Homo sapiens: one gene and its partner. The protein of the gene in region 2 purifies or fractionates together with the protein of the main gene of each other region. This does not show direct contact. Each region holds a gene or a part of one and is shown on either strand. Other genes may lie near its edges.

Region 1 (3,500 bases), on a different chromosome or scaffold from region 2:
TCTACAACACTGACAAAGATCTGGGTTGTCTCGCAAGGCAAAGAAGGCTTGCACATAAGGAACCTCGGACCATTTGCCCTCCTGTCTGCAGAAAACATCTAGTTGTTGAATAGTATTAATATTAACACTTCCCTCAGGAGGCCAAGCCTCCCCATCCTGCAGCTGGTAAGACGGCCATGCCCGAGTGCAAAAGAATATGAGGTGCTCTTTCTTCAGAGTCTGAGTGTCAAAGGAGTTCCAGTGTTTCAGAATGCACTTGAGAGGAGTATAGGCTGAAGATGATTTGTTACATATCTAGAAAAAGAGGAGAGAAAAGGCATCCCTTAGTCTCCTTTGTCCTTCTGGAGTGATCGACAGCAGAGAGAAAAATGGAAGGGGCGTCCCCCTTCTCCTCTTCCCTCCCATTTCCTCAGGTTCCTGGTGACCATTATAGGTGCTGCCCATGGATCAAAGCATGACCTTCACCCATGAATCCGGAGGAGCTAGCTTGTGCTCACCTGCACAAGGTCCTAGCTCTCTGCCCTGCTGGTTTCCTAGACCTACTTGGCCCATAAGGCTCCTGAGATTCCCTAGAACCATGGGAGAGATTGTGCAGTAGTTGGATTGGGGCAAGACCCTTTAAGGAAGGGAACATCTTAACTCTATCCTTACATCCTCTTACTACCACCCTGGCAAAGTTATGAATTCCTAGAGAATGAGACTGATTGATTTCTAAACACAAGATCCCTTTCTCACTTAGATGCCAGTGTAGCTGTGTACAGAACAGATGCCTCAAAAGAATGTAAAAATTGAATGGCTGTTCTCCCTCCAATGGGGATAACACTGAGGCTAAAATATGTCTTCCCAGGGTAGCTTCTTCCTGGCTGTTGAAAGAGGAGTTTTTATGCTTACAAATAGGGCATGGGGCCTGATCACTGAAAGAGGGACATAAGAGAGAAAGGAATCAGGGAACTAGAGGTTTTGGGCAAAGGGCTGACAAGGCTTCTCACAGAGAAAAATCCCATCCCACTAGGTAGCACTATAGGGTTTGAAATGTTAGGAAAAAACTCTGACTACAAATTCTTTCCAAGCAGAGGTCAGAAAGGGAGGTTTGGGGCTTAATAGGCTGTCCCCATAATATGCTGTCCAGTAGAAAAAAAACTAGTTTGTCTCATAGAGGGAATGCTTAAATTCATTGGGCAATGCTGAGCTCTTACATGAAGGAAAAACAACCTGATGGAGAAAAGGGTATTCACTTGGGGTGAAACATCCCCCTATAGAGTGCCATGAATGTCTATCACTGGGGGACAAAAAGGCCCTAAGTGAAAATTTAGGCTGAAATCTTGAAGTCCCCCTGTCTCAAGGAAATCACAAAAACAACAATTATTTGAGTTACATTCCTCGTTACTAAGGCACTTGCTGACTTTGCTTAACAGGATTATCTCCCCAGGCTATAAAGACACCCACAACATTGCATACAAAGAAGGAATAGGAGACATAGTAGCTGCGAAAAGCAAGGAAGAAAATGCAATAGAAAAGTCTGGAAGTCCTGGTGCCAACATTCTGACGGGCTGTCGGGGGCTGGAGTTAGTCCAGGGACCTTCAGGTAACACTGAGGAGTAGCCTCAAACAGAAACCTTCAGTTGCCCCAGGACCTCCTTCTAGCCCATGTGACAGCTAAGTCCTCTGTGAAAGGAAACTGGATTAGAACAGAGCCAACATTCCCAACACCTGAGGGTGAAGGGGGACTGACAAAGTCCTCTCCAGCAAGCCTGTATCTTAAGTCTCATAAGGTTGGCAGCCGCTCTAAAAGCTTTTAACTGGCCCAGTGTTTTGTTCAGTCTTCAGGAAAAAATCTGAGGACAAGAAGCCTCTGAAATGAAAGTAAAGAGTTTGGAGGTCCGCTCCTACTCACCCTTCCAATGTTTCCTGGCCAATGCACCAAAATGTTAGTCTCGTCAATGCACCACAATGTAGCAGTCTCTCATTGCCCAAGGTATCACCTGAAGTTCTTTGTCTCATGACCAAGAAAATTAAGGAGCGCGGACCCCAAAGATGAAGTTGAAGTGAAAGTTTAATAAGCAAAAGAAGAAAGCACTCCACTGCAGAGAGGGGGCCCAAAAGAGGGTTGCCATTTCACAGCTGAATACAAAGGCATAAGGCACACATTTCTGGTAGCTCCACCCCATCCTCGTAGTGTGCATGCAAGCCCTTAGCTTGAGTTACTCCATGTGGCTTTGTTCCCCTTACTGTGCATGTGTCAGGGGATGGAATTTTCTATTGTGAGCATGTCTAGGCAAGTCTCCTGTGTAGCCTTGTTTTAATGTATGTGGCTGTGGGCATGTTTTAGGCAAGCCCCCCTGTACAAGTTCCCTTATCTGCAGTTTGATTTTTCAGGCTGTTCTTTTGTTTGAAGGAATTTGACTGAGGGCCCACCCTAACTGCCTGCCTGACTAGTTTCTTCCTTCCTCCTCTCTCAATAGCACCTGAATATCAGAACCAGAGAAAGGCAAGAAATATGACAACAGTCACAAATACCACAAGAAACATTTGAAAACCACTTTTTATCCAGTTTTCTCATGGCCTAGATCCAACAGGAATAAGTCCCGTGAATCTAAATGGCCAACTTTAGATAAAGGGCCATTTTTCTTAATTGACTGATTATTCCACTTCTCCTAAATTATTTATAATGAGATGTACTGGCTGTTGTGCAGATTTTGCCTTGACAGGCCCATAAATAATTGAGGGCCCTTTTATTATCTAAAACTATTTTAACCAACACATTTACATAGGTCTCTTGGGCCTCTAAAGCTTGAGCTGTTTTATTTACTATTTGGGCCATAGTCAGGGATAAAAATGTTTAGAAACATGTTTTAGTTTAGAAATACCTAGTGAGGGTTAGAAATTCTTAGTCAAACTAGTGAGATCTGGTGGTCAGTTATTGATCAGATAAAATATGAGGAATTCCCCTCTCTAAGCCATAGTTTCTAAATGTGTGAGAAAAACAAGCAGTCCACACATAGTTCAGGGCCTGGTCTGAACACTAAAGTCTGGTTCATTCACAGAGATATAATACTTGTTTAGTATGGAGAAAGAGAGGGAGGCTTTACAACACATCACCCCAGAGTCACAAACCACCATACAGAGGTCAGATGGTATGTGACAGCTAGGTCCTCTGTGATAGGAAACTGGATTGGAACACAGCCAACATTCCCAACACCTGATGGTGAAGAGGGACTGACAAAGTCCTTTCCAGCAGGCCTGTCCCTTGAGGCTTGTAAGGTTGGCAGCAGCTGCTCTAAAAGCTTTTTACTAGCCCAAGACACAGGGCTGAACTTTGCTTTGGAGCCCCTTACCTTTTTCCAAGGAATCAAAACAATTAATAAAACCAGTCCAACACCAATGAATGAAATAGGCCACCAATGAATGGAAAAATTATCTGTCTTCTCAGTTTCTGCAGAGAGAGAAGGAAAACATTAGCAGGAAACCTACTGGCAAGGGCCAGAGAAACCACACAACTG
Region 2 (3,500 bases):
ACTAGTTTCGCCTATTCTAGAACCATTTGATGGTATCATACTGTGTGTCTTGTAGCAAGAGATCATTTTTTTCATTGTCTATAGTCTTAACATCAATAGGCCCCATCATTTTATTGTAATGTGTATTAGAATTGTTTCCAGTTTTTGGTTATTTTGAATAATTGCTACTGCGAAATATCTCTTGTGTTTCTTTAAACAGAGCATATGGGATCAGCATTTAAATAAGTGCTGTCTATGCATTTTCCTTTTATTTTCGGTCCTATTTAAAGTCCCATAATAGGGAAGGCCATTTATTGCCTGTTGACCCTAGCCTTGTAAGAAACCTTCTAGCAAAAAGTAAAGTGGTAAAGTTTCAGACTCTCTAGGTTGTTCTTGAAATCAGTTATTTGAGGGTAGGATTAGTTAAAAGATAAACCGAAGGAGATACTAAATAAAGCAGGGTCACTGAAGGCAAATGTGTATGCCAAACACAACTGAGTTAACTTTACATAGCCTTCAAGATGAATTCAAACTGATTTCAAGATACGTGTGTTGTAATGCCATTCTGCAATCAATACGGTGTTCTGAATGAAGGAAAAACCTGAGGAACTTGTGCATAAATATGTATTGTAATATTTGTTGGTTACTACGTTTTATGTTGTTCTTTCTAATGACTTTTTTTTTATGTGTTTTTAGAAAATAAAACTCGAACTACATCAGTTAAAACAACAAGTAATGGTAAGATTCACTTTCCTGTTTGTTGGCTGGTTTGTAATTATATAAACTTATTAATAAGTATAATATTAGAAATGGATGTTTTTAAAAACTTAATTCTTTGTGAAATGTTTGTGTAATATGCCTCAAAAGTACACATTGGAAGATTTAGCTAAGAACACAGCCAATGAATGAATTACTGTTGTCTGTAACCATATTCATTAAGAAAATTGTGGCCAGGCATGGTGGCTCATGCCTGTAATCCCAGCACTTTGGGAGGCCGAGGTGGGTGGATCACCTGAGGTCAGGAGTTCAGACCAGCTTGGCCAACATAGTGAAACCCTGTCTCTACTAAAAATACAAAAATTAAGTGGGCATGGTGGCAGGTGCCTGTAATCCCAGCTACTTGGGAGACTGAGGCAGGAGAATCACTTGAACCCAGGAAGCAGAGGTTGCAGTGAGCCGAGATTGCGCCATTGCACTCCAGCCGTGGTAACAAGAACGAAACTGTCTCAAAAAAAAAAAAAAAAAAAAAAAGAAAATTGTGTTCTAGGAGGAATTAAGTCATTTTTAAGTAAAAGTTTTTCTAAAGTGCTGCACGGAAGGAACCCTTAAATTCTCTTAGACTGTCTTTAGAGAATCACACGTGATTTTTAAATGCTTACTGTGCCAGCTATTTAATGTTTTTTAAATAGAAAAAACATAGATGTTAAAGAAAAAAAGGCTTTGATATGTATCAGAGAAAAGGCTCTATGTAAACTGGATTTTAATATTTTGCTGCTTTGAGTCCATCTTTGCTTTCCAAAGTTGTTTAAGATCAGCTTTATTCATAAGTTCCATTCGGAGATTGTATGAGGAGTCTTGAGGTTAAAAGCAGCAACAGGCCGGGCGCGATGGCTCACGCCAGTACTCCCAGCACTTTGGGAGGCTGAGGTGGGTAGATCACAAGGTCAGGAGTTCAACACCAGCCTGACCAACATGGTGAAACCCCATCTCTACTAAACATACAAAAATTAGCCAGACGTGGTGGCATGCACCTATAATCCCAGCTACTCAGGAGGCTGGTACAGGAGAATTGCTTGAACGCAGGAGGCAGAAGTTGCGTGAGCAGAGATCACCCCATTGCACTCCAGCCTGGTTGACAGAGTGAGACTCCATCTCAAAAAAAAAAAAAAAATGGCAGCAACAACCCACTCTAGACTGGCATAAGCATAGAAGGGGGTTATTTGTGTCTAACTGGGAAGTCCTGGGACAGGCTGCCTCCAGATGTGGCTTGGCCAGAGTTCCCTGATGCCAGGAGGCCTAGGTCCATTTCTCTGGAAGCCCCTGGCTCTCTCCCTCCCTGGGTTGCCTCGCCTAGGATAGGGACAGTGGGGGCAGTGGTCCCAGTGTCACGTCCTCATAGAGTTTGGGTTTCTTACTTTGGATTTTTCCTTCTTTGTTGTTTGCCCTCCTTTTAGGATGAAGTGATCAAAGTCCGAACAGATACCAAATTAGACTTCAACCTAGAAAAGAGCAGAGTAAAAGAATTGGTACGTTCCTTTACTAAAAACACATTATGAATTAATTTATTTTTGGAATGGAATGCTTGGTTAAGCCTAAGTTTATGTACATGTCATAGGTACTGTTAAATATTTATCTGTTTATCAGTGTTAGGCTGTATTTTCTCTATTATAATAATTTTGGATTAAGACTTAAATTTGTTGCTTTCAAAAGTAACATTAAAATTAAACTCCTAGTCAAATTAGTCAGTTTGAATATTTGTTTCAGAAATATTAGAGATATGTTACATAGAGATTCATAAAGAAATTAAATGCAATCTTGATCTATTTAATACTGACTTAAATCTTCATAGGTCTTGATCTTGTAAAAGTTAAGTTGATTATTTCAGGCTTGAATAATAGTAAATTATTAACATTAAATAATATTAAATTATATACTGGAATTCAAGATTAAAACATTTCTGGCCGGGCGCGGTAGCTCACGCCTGTAATCCCACTACTTTGGGAGGCCAAGATGGGCAGATCACCTAAGGTCAGGAGTTCGAGGCAGCGTGCCTGCCCAACATGGTGAAACCCTGTCTGTACTAAAAATACAAAAAATAAGCCGGGCATGGTGGCGGGCACCTGTAATCCCAGCTACTCGGGAGGCTGAGGCAGGAGAATCGCTTGAACCCAGGAGGCAGAGGTTGCAGTGAGCTGAGATTGTGCCACTGCTCTCTAGCCTGGGTGACAAGAGCAAAACTCCATCTCAAAAAAAAAAAGAAAATTTCTATGTTGTCTTTTAAGTGCAGTGAGAAGTTGTGAGGGTATTTTGTTTTGTTTTCTATTTTTGTTTTTTTTGAGACAGAGTCTCAGTGTGTTGCCGAGGCCGGAGTGCAGTGGCACCGTGTCTGCCCACTGCAACCTCCGTCTCCTGGGTTTAAGCAATTCTCCTGCCTCAGCCTCCCGAGTAGCTGGGATTACAGACGCCACCACCACACCTGGCTAGTTTTTATATTTTTAGTAGAGACAGGGTTTCACCATGTTGGCCAGGCTGGTCTCAAACTCCTAACCTCAAGTGATCTGCCCACCTTGTCCTCCTAAAGTGCTGGGATCACTGGAGTGAGCCACTGCGCCTGGCCGGCAAGTGTGTTTTTTTTTTCTTTGTTTTTGTTTGAGGCGGAGTCTCGCTCTGTCACCCAGGCTGGAGTGCAGTGGTGTGATCTCAGCTCACTGCAAGCTTCGCCTCCCGGGTTCACGTCATTCTCCTGCCTCAGCCTCCAGAGTAGCTGGGACTACAGGCCCCTGCCACCACGCCCAGCTAAT

What was found.
Region 1: the proteins of MCUR1 (region 2) and NCR3LG1 purify together in Homo sapiens (co-immunoprecipitation; one large-scale study listed by IntAct). This does not show direct contact.

The regions. Positions count from the first base shown.
Region 1 is NC_000011.10:17,368,800-17,372,299, reverse strand, and holds part of NCR3LG1 (natural cytotoxicity triggering receptor 3 ligand 1 precursor), read right to left. Parts: intron 3,434-3,500; coding exon 3,336-3,433; intron 295-3,335; coding exon 1-294. UniProt on the Homo sapiens protein: Triggers NCR3-dependent natural killer cell activation.
Region 2 is NC_000006.12:13,797,558-13,801,057, reverse strand, and holds part of MCUR1 (mitochondrial calcium uniporter regulator 1), read left to right. Parts: intron 1-675; coding exon 676-717; intron 718-2,153; coding exon 2,154-2,225; intron 2,226-3,500. UniProt on the Homo sapiens protein: Key regulator of mitochondrial calcium uniporter (MCU) required for calcium entry into mitochondrion. Plays a direct role in uniporter-mediated calcium uptake via a direct interaction with MCU.